Linked DNA regions of Homo sapiens. The protein of the gene in region 1 purifies or fractionates together with the protein of each later gene. This does not show direct contact. Each region holds a gene or a part of one and is shown on either strand. Other genes may lie near its edges.

Evidence for each region.
Region 2: the proteins of GDF10 (region 1) and LRP4 purify together in Homo sapiens (affinity purification with mass spectrometry; 2 studies listed by BioGRID and IntAct, with this or other methods). This does not show direct contact.

What each region holds. Positions count from the first base shown.
Region 1 is NC_000010.11:47,309,265-47,315,933, reverse strand, and holds the end of GDF10 (growth/differentiation factor 10 preproprotein), read right to left. Parts: intron 6,139-6,669; coding exon 5,213-6,138; intron 3,334-5,212; coding exon 3,142-3,333; 3' UTR 2,357-3,141; downstream 1-2,356. UniProt on the Homo sapiens protein: Growth factor involved in osteogenesis and adipogenesis. Plays an inhibitory role in the process of osteoblast differentiation via SMAD2/3 pathway. Plays an inhibitory role in the process of adipogenesis.
Region 2 is NC_000011.10:46,854,409-46,860,530, forward strand, and holds the end of LRP4 (low-density lipoprotein receptor-related protein 4 precursor), read right to left. Parts: intron 4,908-6,122; coding exon 4,575-4,907; 3' UTR 2,309-4,574; downstream 1-2,308. UniProt on the Homo sapiens protein: Mediates SOST-dependent inhibition of bone formation. Functions as a specific facilitator of SOST-mediated inhibition of Wnt signaling.

The DNA of each region.
Region 1 (6,669 bases):
TGTAAATTCAGAGATGCGGCCCAGCTGCAGGCCACCACCCTGCTCCCTCCAGAATGAAACAGGCCCAGTTGAGTGACATCAGCAAACCGTGTCCAGACCGTATGATGGAATCTTTTGGGCTCTTATGACAATGTAATGTTGACATTTTTTGTTTTAAGGGAAAAACAAGTTATTTCATAAACATATTTCTTTTTAACCTCACTTTACTGTGTCCCAACCTCAGTGTTGTTGGGACAATCCTAGCAGACTGGGGATCACTGGCCAGGAAGTTCAGGGTCAGTGCCAGTCATGTAGGCCTTAAATCAGGCGGCCTTGAGCATCAAACTTAATGTTCCCTGTGGTCTTGGCAAGACATCAATGGACATGTTACTTACCCTTCCTGAGCTTGTTTTTCTGCAGCTCCAATTGGGCAGTAAGTTGCAAGGCTGCTGTGAGGCTAAGCAAGATCCTGTAACTGCGTGGTCTTCTATACATTGGAGGGGTCACTAATGATACCAGCTTCTCCTACTGTAGAGTTGGGACATGTCATGTCCCCAGTTGGGACCTGCCCCATTTCACATTCCAAGGTCTTCAGGGCATGCCCAGGAAAGATGGCAACAACTGAGCACCTTCCATCCAGGCACAGGCCTGGAGGCCATGCCCACAGCTGGACCCAGGGAGAGTGTCCCAGCCTGCCCTCCCCAATCCCAGTAAGCCAGACATGAGGACTCAGAGGCATTCCAGGTATTTGGGGGGAATCCAGAAGGCCTCCCAGAAACTGCAAGTGCTAGAAAGAATAAGATAAAACTACTATTGGACAGCCCATGTTTAGCAAAAATAGAAAGGGGGCAGTTGAATGAGAAGAAAATGAGGGATGGAATATTCAGAAGAAAGGGACTTGGAGTTTTATTAAGCCCCAATATTTTTACTTATTTTGCTATTAACTTATATCCTGTCATGTTCCAAAGAGAATTAGACATGGCAAACCAAGCACTAAAGTGCAGGCCAGTTTGCGCCAGCCCAGCAACCTATAGCAGCTTGAAGGGAACAATTTGGTCCCATGTCCAGTTCCTGTGGGAGTAAGGGAATAAGGTGGTGAGTGTGGAGGACCATCCCACCACTCCCCTGACCTCTGTCAGCAGGCAGGGCCATGTGCCCAGCAGGTAGGGGTCCCCACGGCAGCTGCTCACGCATGTGTCCCAGGGTCACTTGGAGCACCTCATAGGAGATGCTGAGCAGAAGCTGCGGAGCTTCACCCTGGCACCCTCGCATCCCCCTCACCTACCAGTTCTGGCTAATCATTCTCCAGTTTCAATGGCTTCGCCTCCAGGAGTTGCCACTCTTCGGATGCTACCTAGGCTCCTGGAATCACTGTGGCTGCCTGGGCAGAAGGCCAGGGAACTGGGACTTTACATCGCCCTTCCCAGGGCAGCCAGAAGCCAAGAGGCCCTGAACACCCAGCTCCCTTGCTCGAGGCCACACTGCCCTGAGGAGTAACTAAGCTCCAAAGCTCCCCACAGGATTGCTCCCAGCCTGCTTTTCTGCTTCACCTCACCCTTGCCCATGTCTCCTGAGAGCACTTCCCCATATATCCCTTGCACAGGAATCCTGGTCTCCAGAGCCCAGCCTAAGGCCCAAGACAGACACCAGAGCTGCTTCTCTCCTTGGACATCCCCTCTTAGAAAACCACTATGGCTTTGCAGTTTCCTCTAAGACTTGGGGCCACGTCATCTGTAGGTCCCAGCTGATGGGACTGCTATATATACACCTGTCTCAAATTGGATCCAGATTCTCTTTCAGAAATGCTGGTTAAGCAGCTTCAGGCACTCCATCATAAGGCAATGTAAACGAAGGGCATAAGGGAACAATTTGGGGTGGCTTGGGTGATCCTTCTACACACAAGCAAAAGAGAAGCAGGTGCAGGAGACCACATGGCCCGTCCACTTCCTCATGAGTCCTTGGACCTCAGGAGAGACCCCTACTTATGTTGAATCTCTTGCTCCATGAATTACCAGAAGTAAAAGATCTCTGACCAGGCAACCATAGATGTTTTTTTAAACACCCCAGGCACCTCCCAATCAATCCATGTCCCTGAGGCTAGGGGATGAGGAGAAACCCCGAGAGGCCACTGTCCCTGTCTGGAGCCATGTCCATTCTCAACATCAGCCTAGCTTGGGTTTGCAGGAACCAGTAGTGGGACAGGCCCCTGGAAAGCATGGGAAAGCCTGGGTTTCTGGAGCCTGGGACAGACACCAGGGAGTATGGAGATGGCTTAGGGGACTCCAGCGACCCTAAAAGAGGCTGAGACCCCAGCAACCACCAGATGGTGTACTTACAGATGGGGAGCCAGTGAGATTTTGAAATGGGTGACATTCAGTTTTTCAAGATACCACTGTACCTTTAATTTATTAGCTTTCCATAAAAACACATAACATACACAATCTACAGTATAGAAAGTATAATTTACAAAAATATAAAATCTTGGTTATTTTTTAGTATTCCCACGTTACTATATGTGTTATTTCAATATGCATGTTTAAACAACCCACACTCAGCATGACTATCTCTGTGGGGAATGGTGTCAACGCCCTCCCTTTTTGTTGTTTTAAAATAAAATATATATATTAAGAAAAAGAAACCAATATTGGCTACATGTGCATACCATATGGATAAAAGCTCTGCAGTGGACTTTGAAAGGAAACACTCATTTACACCACGATTATCCTGTTTTCCAAAATCACTATGTGGCCCAAAGTGTTCTGAACTGAGCATTTAAACAGAGTTCTTTCCGTGTGCAGGGAGCGAGCGCCCTAAGATTTGCATAGTCTTCTTGCTCAGTTATGAGATGATGATCACATCAAGCCAATGTTGTGGATATGTTTTGTTTTCAAGCCTTCAGAACAGTGGGTATGAATGATGGGCCACTTTCAGGCCAGGGCTAATTCCCAGATTCCTTCAGGTACTCAGGCTGGCATTTAAGGGGCTAGTCACTAGCAATGAAAGACCCCCTAATGATGCACTGGCGGACAGCTCTCTCTGGGCCCCAGTGATGTTGCCCATGAGCTGTGCTCTGTGTCTGCAGCTGCACCACAAGTCCTGGTTGCAGAAGGCTCCGAGAAGGCAGCTCTGCTGGGCGTGGCTTCTTTCCACCCTGGAGTGGTCTCACCGGCAGGCACAGGTGTCCACGGACATGTTGGGGTACACCTTCAGAACCACATTCCGATTCTCATCCAGGAAGAGGACCCCAAGGGAGTTCATCTTATCGGGAACACAGCAGGGCTCTGGGATGCCAGGGATGATGCCCACAGCCCTGACAATGCTCTGGATGGTGGCATGGTTGGATGGACGAACGATCTGCAAGGCAGAAAAGGAGTAGGGTTACCTCAGCTCCGCCCTCACCCACCCACGCACCCATGCCATCCTCACAGTCCCAGGCCATACTGCTCTGCTGTTGTTCCCCGGCTGAGGCCACAGAATAGGCATCCACCTAGAGGAATGGACGAGATCCCAAGGCGGGGCACACGGTTCCTCTAAAATCAGACATACGCTGAGTTCCGGGCTGAGGTCTCCAAGAGCCCCCAGGCCTTCCTGCCCTTTGGCTTCCCTGAGGCACGCTGTGTCCCCAACACGGCAGGGCCACATGGGGGCGCCTGAGTGTCACACATCCCCGCGGAGCACCAGGAAGCAGGCAGAAGCTGCCCAGAGGGAAAACCCAGCGAGATGCCAGCACAGCCCTGGTCTCGCAGTCTGAGGAGGACAGGCATGCTTCTCACGAGGTTGTGCTCTTGTCACTGAAGGGAAGGCCTGGCATGTGCGTGGCAGTGTGACAGGCTGGACATTGACATTTCCTAGGGGCTGCTCTCCCTGCATCACCCCCTTTTTTTTGTCAGCTTAGCAATTTTATGGGGTGGGTATTACCTGGACTTTACTGGGAAGACACCGAGGTTTAAAATGACTGAGTAACTTGACCAAGACCCCTAGTTAGAAAGTGACCTGGCTTGGAAAACTGTGCCCACCTCTGACAAGATGAACCAACCGGGTCATCCACTTCAGTGCATCACCAGCCAAACAGAGATTTGTATATGTAGTGCTGTTGAGGAGGAAGCCCTCTTGTGTGGGTGTGGTGGGAAGGGAGCAGGGCAGGGACACCTGCCTTTGCAGCGTTCTGGCTGGTGTCCCGGAAGGTGGGGAGGCAGCAAGCCAGGGTGATAAGCTAACCGCATGGCCAACCAGCTGCAAGCCTTCAGGGTTCCGGGCTTGCATCTGCCTGGGTCTTTGCTAGGCCCTTTTAGCAGGCTCCGTCTCTATGTCAGGCACCTCCCTCTCTCTTGCACATGCACGGTTTTGAGGAGAAGTTTTGAGGAGAAGCCATTTAATTCCCAAACACGTTACTGCTGCCCCATGTCTGGGTCTGGACTTCCCCAGCTGGCTGATTATTTAAGTTCAAATTGGATTTATGCACTGACTTTCTTTTCTTGGAGGGAAAGGCATGACCTGCCCTGGGCAGAGTAACTAAGCAGGAAGAAACTGTGTGCTGAGTGCCGAGGGCTGACATCACAAGCAGCCAGGCTGCTGCAGAGCAGGCTGCAGGGAGAGGGATGGACTCAGCCACAGCCCAGTCTGGAGCGAAGGTGAGAACTGGAAATCCTTAGGCTGGTGCAACAGACAGAACAGCCCAGTGCTGTGTGTCCTGCAGACCCTGTGCACAGTGAAGGCCTATTCCCTGTGGATTCCTGCCCTGAGCTGCAAGGAGGAGGGAATCTACAGTGGGAGAGCTGCTGAGGCTAGCACTGTGCTAGTCACAGATTGCCACACTCTGGGGTCCAGGCTGGGAACAGAAATGAGAGCCTTGGTCAGGAGGGAGCTTCTGGGACCTGCCGTGTGTACAGGAAGCAGCATCTACTCAACCTCTGCAGATAGTTGCTATGTGGGGATGCGTTTCTAAAGACATGGATTCTCCTGCTTTTCAAAAGAATGTTCTCATTTTAAAGTCCCAATTCAACCAAGCCAATACTTCAAAAAACACAGCCAAACTCACACATATGTGGGCGGCAACTACCCTACGGGCTGCCACTTGGTGACCTATGTCTACCTATTTCCTGCCTGGAATAGATAGGAAGTACTGTTATTCCCATTTTGCAGATGGGGAAACAGAAGTCCTGCAGGCTGAGGAACTTGACGGTAGCGGCAGAGCTGAGCCTTAGAATTTGGCAAAAGGCGGAAGAAACCCTACCTTAGGCATGGGGAACTCACATGCTCCCGCGCAGTAGTAGGCATCAAAAGATTTCGGTGAGATTATCCATTCATTCCAGCCGATGTCTGCGAAGTCCACCTTCAGGTACCTCCGGGAGCACACCCTCGGCTCATCCCACTGCTTCCTCCGGGCTTTCTGCATCGTCTTCTCGTCAAAGTCCAGCACCTGCGAGGCGGCCATGAACACCTCCTGGCCCTTCTTCCTGCGGTCTTTGCGCCCTGGCCGGGGTTTCAGCGCCCGGAAGGGGCTGGGCCACAGCTGGTGCTTGTGGAAGTGCTGTGCGTGGGCGCGCGGCGGCCTCTCATCCAGCCCCGGCAGCTCGTTGTCCTGGAGGGGCCCAGTGGCCTGCGCGGCTCGGCGCACGCGGGGGTCCGCTGAGTTGTTGGGGGCTGCGCGGGGCTCGGGGTCTCCGGCAGGGAAGGGGTCGTATCTCTGCAGCGTCACTGCCACGCTGTTGGGCTCCGAGATGGCCAGATCGTTGGCATAGACTAGGATGTAGGGCGCATAGGGGCTGGGCCGGGGCACCCCCGGGTCCCTCTCCTCAGAATCCAGCTGGGCGGAGAGGAGCAGCTCGCCATCCCGGCGGGCCGCCTTGACGATGGGGGAGATGTCCTTGGCCTGCCACAGGCCGCGCGGTGGGGGCGCCAGGGCCATGGCCCCGCGGAGTAGCCCCTGTGTGGCCGTGTTCTGCGAGAGGCTGCGGAAGAGCAGGTGCTGGCGTGTGGGCGGGCCCAGGGGCAGCGGGCGGCCTGAAGCGTTCTTGGCCCGCGGCTTGCATAGCACCTCGAGCGCTCGAGGCCACCGAGGCGGCTCTGAGTAGAAGTGGAAAGTGGCCGTAAGGATCATTTCCGAGTCTTGCATGGAAGTCAGGTTGAAGAAATACACGGCCTTCTGGTCGACCACTTCTGTGAGGGAAGGAGAGACCACAGGCTGTGAAGTTCTCGCTCGTGCTCCTGAGGGTCTCCCACCCAGGGCTGGAGGAGCAAACGCCCACCGATCCACACTTTCAGGACCATCCTCCTCCCCCGCTTTGCTTCCCTCCTTTCGTGTAATCCTCACATGAAACTGATGAGGGCGCCCTTTGCAATCCTCAGTGCACAGGTGAGGAATTAAGGTTGAGATTGTCAATATCCCGTAGCAAACAACAACAACAACAAAAAGCAACAGCAAAGAAATAGGGGCAGACAGGGAGGCATTCGGGCCTGCTGGACTCCAAAGCTCCTGTTTGCTCCCCCTGCCCTCTACTGCCTCTGCATGCACAAATGAACAAATGTCACTGACACCTTCATTAAGTGCTCAGGATGGCTTGGGTTGGGTCCAAGCCCTGCATCAAGGCAGCCCCTCCTGTATTTGCACAGCCCTCTATTTATGCAATCAGTTTTTAAATGCAATCATTAAATACACTTCACATTAAACCCAAACATTCTTCCAAAAGA
Region 2 (6,122 bases), on another chromosome or scaffold:
ATAAAATGAAATAAGCAGATTGTGTAGCTTGTGGCTAACTTAGCCTTGGGTTTAAACTATGACCCTTAATTAGGCTGTCTGGGTCTGTTTTAACACCATGTCAAGGAGACCAAAGTTATGAGTTGGAGCTTTGACTAGACATCAAACTTTATTCCCTATGCTGAGCTCTGCTAGCCTCTGCAGCTGGTTAACGGGAGAATGGTGTGGAGAGAAAATAAGTAGGCAGATGAGGGAATGTTTCAAAACAAAGAGTGCCTAAAAACATCCCAAAACACACATCCTATTAAGTGAATCAGTCGACTCAACTTCACATTTGAAGAAAAGATATATTACAGACTGTTTCGTAGCCATAAAAAGGACTCAGCCACATTTCTTTTATCATTATGTCCATAAATAGAAACCAGACAACTTAGGGCCAGGTGCGGTGGCTCACGCCTGTAATCCCAGCACTTTGGGAGGCTGAGGCGGGCGGATCACAAGGTCAGGAGATTGAGACCACGGTGAAACCCCGTCTCTCCTAAAAATACAAAAAATTAGCTGGGCGTGGCAGTGGGCGCCTGTAGTCCCAGCTACTTGGGAGGCTGAGGCAGAAGATTGTGCCACTGCACTCCAGCCTGGGCGACAGAGCGAGACCCTGGATAACCTTGGATATCAGTGCATTACTGGGTCCTCTTAGAACCCTCTTAGAACCCACTTAGAAACCTGTGCACCCTCAGCTTTTGTAGATGCTGCCTCTGAGTTCCTATGCATTGAATTTAGGCCTACGTTTGGTGACAGCTTCAGTTTATCCAGAGTCCTTTCTATGGGCCAGAGATCCTTTCATTTTAGATTCCACAGTTTGTTCATACACCATAGACAGACCGTGACTGTATTTTGAGTGAGTTTGCAAAAATATGGCCAGTTTGTTAGAACTTGACCCACCATCTGCTCACTTATCAGTTTCAGGGTTTTTTTGTTTTGTTTTTTTAGTGACAAGGTTTTGCTCTGTTACCCAGGATGGAATGCAGTGGCGTGATCATAGCTCACTGTAACCTTGAACTCCTGGGCTCAAGCAATCCTCCTGCCTCAGCCTCCCAAGCAGCTGGGACTACAGGCATGAGCTACCACACCTGACTAATATTTTTAAATTTTTTTGTAGAGATATGGTCCTGTCATGTTGCCCAGGCTGATCGTGAACTCCAGGCCTCAAGCAATACTCCTTACTTCTGTCTTGGCCTCCCAAAGTGGTGAGATTACTTTGGTGTAGCCACTGTGCCTGACCCTAGTTTCAGATTTTATACCAGAGAACTAGACAAGGAATTCCCAACCTTTGTTTTATCCCAAGATGTCCTCCTTTTCTGCTTTTTTTTTCCCTCCCAAAGAGAACAGTGGGGGTTGGAGGGATGGTTATCCTTGGGCTATTCTACTTGTTTTTGTTCTGGCACACCTACTCCTTACTACAGTTAGAAAAATTATACACTGTAGCTTATACTCAGATCTCTGGTCACTTAAATACAAGAAGCTTCAGTCTTTCTTACTTTCATTTTTTGTCTTTTTTTGGGATGGTGGTGGTAATGGTGTTGCTAGACTCTAAGCTCTGTAAGATTATGTCTTTGTTTAGGCATGGGCAGTGCCTAGCCCATAGCAGATGAATGAATGAATGAATGAATGAATGAATGGGGATATTATCCTATAGATGGTGTGTGGTTTAGAAAATCAACTATTGAGACTTGACATGAAATTCTACATCGGGCGTTGAGATTAACATGATTCCCAGTTTTCACTGAGGGATATCACATCCAGAGAACCTGAGAAGGGATCCCTAGCTCCTTGTTCTAGCCTTGAGAAGTAGTGGATGAGCTATGAAAAGACAGCTTTTAAAAATAAATGAAATCCTAGTGATAATTTGATCCACTCTCAGACTAACTATGAAAGTTGACTAAGATCAAACAGAGCTAGTGGCAGATCTGGGACTGGAATTAGCCCTCCATGTCCCCAGCTCCAGTACTTTTCTTACTACATGAGATAGTCTTGCCAGTGACCATCACTGCAAGGCAAAGTAAAGTTCTGTAACAAAGACCTAGAACAGAAATAGAAGATACATGGTATACATGCCATGACATTTCCTTCCAGTGCACAGAAGAGATGTCACTAGCCATATGACATTCTTCCCATTGGGTGCGAATAGGCCCTCAGGCAGCCACTACCAACCAGTCAGAGTCAGCACTCAAGAGGAAACCCATCTACCATTCCTCTTCCAGAGGAAATAAAGGTTTCATCAGTCAAGGAACTCTGGCCTCGACCTGTCTTCTCCAGATGAGCTGAAAACTCCAGCAGGAACCTCACACTCTTTATTGCTCTTCACTGTGCCCACATCCACAAAGGACTTAAAAGTGATGTCTGTAAGCAGGTTTTCCACAGCATGGGTCTGCCAGACAGAGCAGGTGCAGGATTAGTCATGACTCCAAGCCAGGCAAGGTGATTAAGAAAAGCTAAATTTATATTAAATTATCATAAAGTCCTAAAATACTGAACATAGTGGTTAAATAACTCCAGAAAGTCCAATCTCTCCAGTGAGTAACGTTAAAACCATTACACATGAGCATGGGAGAATCGCTTCCATTAGTTTAGGACAGAGAGATTTTGCTTTTTACAGAGTAAATCAGTGCTCAAATAGATACTTCCTCAAATATGTCCTTTCTACATTCTGAACAGCCCAAGTGCAATAAGATCCTTCCCCCTTTCCAATCAAGAAAATGCCACTTTTCTACTTGCTCTTCCTCCCCAGACGTGAGTCTAAGGACCCAAAGTGCTCACTCCTTTACTGCTTGTTAAGTGTAATGTGGGGAGGCTCAGAACTGGGGCTGACGCTACTGAGAGCAAGGCTAAGGGCCTGGTATCTCTCTCTAGCAGTCTTAGAACTGACTAGAAAAGAATTGATCTTGTCCTTTTTCACTTTGGTAGCTGATTTCTCAATACCAGTAACCACAGGAGAAGTTTCAACTCAGGAAACTTCCCCTAGAAATTCTCCCCTCCATTCCCAGCCCCTGTTGTTCTCTCCTGCCACTTCTAATTCCTGGGGGAGAAGAGGTCTGGGTCTGCCATGGGCTAGGAGGGCCTCATCAGTGGTGCTCTCTACCTTCCTACTCCTTACCCACCTCTTTGTATTTTTATTTATTCAGCCCTCCCACCACAGGACTTTGGAGATTGCTGGTGCCACAAGGCTTGGTCAGAAAAAGCAAATTAGGCAAAAAAACAAACAAAAAAACCCCACGAAGAACAGCTAGGGAGACGTTTTAGGGCAAAAATAAGTCTCAATTTCCCTGATACCAGGCTGAGACACGTGCCCTTTGTGTGAATGAGCATGAACCAAGTGATGGCATCCCACATGGAAACTAAGCCCCTTAGCTGAGGGGACAGCTGGAAGAGGAACATCACCACCCCGTAGCCACAGGCTTGCTGTCCACTAACTTAGATCCCTGAGCACTTGAGAAAGAACATAGGAAGTTCAACAGGAAGTTTGACCCTCATGGATACTTCTCTTTAGGCCCTGGGTTTCCCAAGTCTCCAACCTGATCGTTCTTTCTGACCATTTATGACAACTTCTGGTTTTTCTTTGAAAGCTTGTTTCTAGGTCTCTTCCCCAGAATCCCAGGACATGAGGGAGAGAGGGGTCAGGAGGTATACCATATTTGGTCTAGGCAGAGCTTCTTAGACTTTTCAGAGACTCAGCCCCCAAGGCCTAACATTCACTCAAGCCACTGGCTCACAACCTGGTTAATTTGAGCAAAGACTTAGGAAAGGTACTGGCCAGTGGTGGCACCAGGAGGGAATTCCTATTAGCCAGTAGCCTTGTGATAGGGGACCCAGTTATCTGAATGTAGAAACAGCTCCAGACATTCTAGGAGGAGGAAGAACAGCCTGAGCCACCCCCATCTCACCAGTATCTGCTGCTGAAAAGGCAGTGTCTCTTAGGGCAAGAATAATGTCCACTGCCAGCAATGGACCAGACACCCAGATCCAACTACCCCCCAAAGCTTTTTCATGTTACTAACACACTTGAGGCTGGAGGTTTCCCAGATGCCCATACCTGCTGGGCTGATTCTTCCTTCTTCTCTCAGCCTCTATCCTTCATCCCTGTCTTTACCCACACCCCCATGTCCCAGCCCCTGATGGGCAAGTTCTCTCAGAGAAGCAGTCATGCTGGCTGTGATGGGGCAGAGCGCAGTCCTGGGTCATCAGCTGCATCAGCACTGAGAAGCAGGCACTGAGGGTACTGGGGAAAGGGGAGGTGGAGCTCTACGCTGGTGAGGAATCACGAATAAGCAGTTTCAGGGGGCCCAGGATGGAGTACAAGATGTGAGGTTCATGGTAAAATCCAGGTCTAAATTCTCGTGATGTGCCATCATTTCTTGTGCACAGGTAGTTATGGACTCACGTGGTAAACAGCTCCGGTGAAGGCTTAGGAACAGTTATGGGGTGGGAGGAGGAGGAGGACAAGCACACAGAAGCGGGGCCTGCGGTGTAAGCGAGCACAAGGACTAGACGTCCATAAAGGAGAAGGAACAGGCAGGCAGGGAAGAGAATGTGGGCATTTAGACCTGGCTCTCTGAGGAGAGCTTGCGTTCATGTTTCCAGCCCGTGTCTGGCAGAGAGCCTCGTCTTTCTGGAGTGGCTGCAGTATGGACGCTGCTACACTCAGACTGCTCTTCCTGTAACAGCTGCTCCGTCTCTGTGTCATCCAGGGAGCCAGAGCTGGCCTGGATGGACACCGTGTCTGTCTTCATGCATACATGATCCCGGAGGAGGCCCCCCCGTGAGCTTCGCAGTTGCTTGAGGTCATCCCACTCAGCATCATCCCCAGACAGGAGGCAGATTCCCTCTACGATCTTGATCTTCTCCTTGGTGTAGTTATGGTCAGGCCCTCCCTAGGGTGGAGAGTGGGCAGATATGGTCAGTCAGTTGGCCTTCTACAAAGGATCCCATGGTAAACTGAAAAAGGAAGTGGATGGGGTAAGAGTAGGAGTGAAGCGCACAAAAATCCCACAAACAAATGGGGAAATGTGATTAAGACAAGTGTATGAGGCCTAGCCTAAAAGGGGAGAGGCAGCTGTGATAATTATTACCATTACCATACAGGAGGAGGGAAAACCATGGCTTCCGGTCCTGCAGCAGCCACTCACTGGCTTTGTCACCTTAGGCAAATTATTTCACATTTCTAAAACTCAGTCTCTTAAGACTCTGCAGTGTGAGGAGAGTAACAGTATCCACACCTCACAACCAACTGCTGTCACCTTAAATGAGATGATACATGGAATGCAGTTATCAGGGAGCTTGACACAAGATGCACTATAACATGTTAGCTATGTTACATTGTTACTGTGGTTTATTAATGGGACATCATGCTGATATAAATCATCAAAAGCAATTGGCAAGAGCAATTAAATGTACATTTATTCAGGATTTTAAGCTACTTCGGGTGCTAGTTTGTATCTCTTTTTTCTAATTTTGTTAAGGAGAAAACTTGGGAGGTAAGACAGGGGACTCTAGAAAATCCTCTTATCTGGCCGGGCGTGGTGGCTTACACCTGTAATCCCAGCACTTTGGGAGGCCCAGGCGGGCAGATCACTTGAGTTCAGGAGTTCGAGACTAGCCTGGCCAACATGGTGAAACCCCATCTCTACTAAAAATACAAAAATCAGCTGGGTTTGGTGGCGGGTGCCTGTAATCCCAGCTATTTGGGAGGCTGAGGCAGGAGAATCCCTTGAACTCCGGAGGCTGAGGTTACAGTGAGCCAAGATCATGCCACTGCACTCCAGCCTGGGTGACAGAGCAAGATTCCATTAAAAAAAAAAAAAGAAAGAAAGAAAGAAAAAAAACTAAAAAAAAGGAAATCTTCTTATCTGGGTCCTAAACGTCAATATAGTGGGGTCCTGCAACTTATAACCTTTTTTGGGAGGTTACTCTCGCTCTGCTGCCATGAGTCCTGGGACCATTCCCAAGCAAAACCTGGGACTCTTCCAGGCACAGCCTGGAGTTCTGCTCGGGCCTCTCCCTTTATGGCTTCTTCAAAGAGCAGCCTCACTCCTGGCTGCTGGGGTATACCAACCGACATACCACCACTGCTAGAAGAAAATGGATCA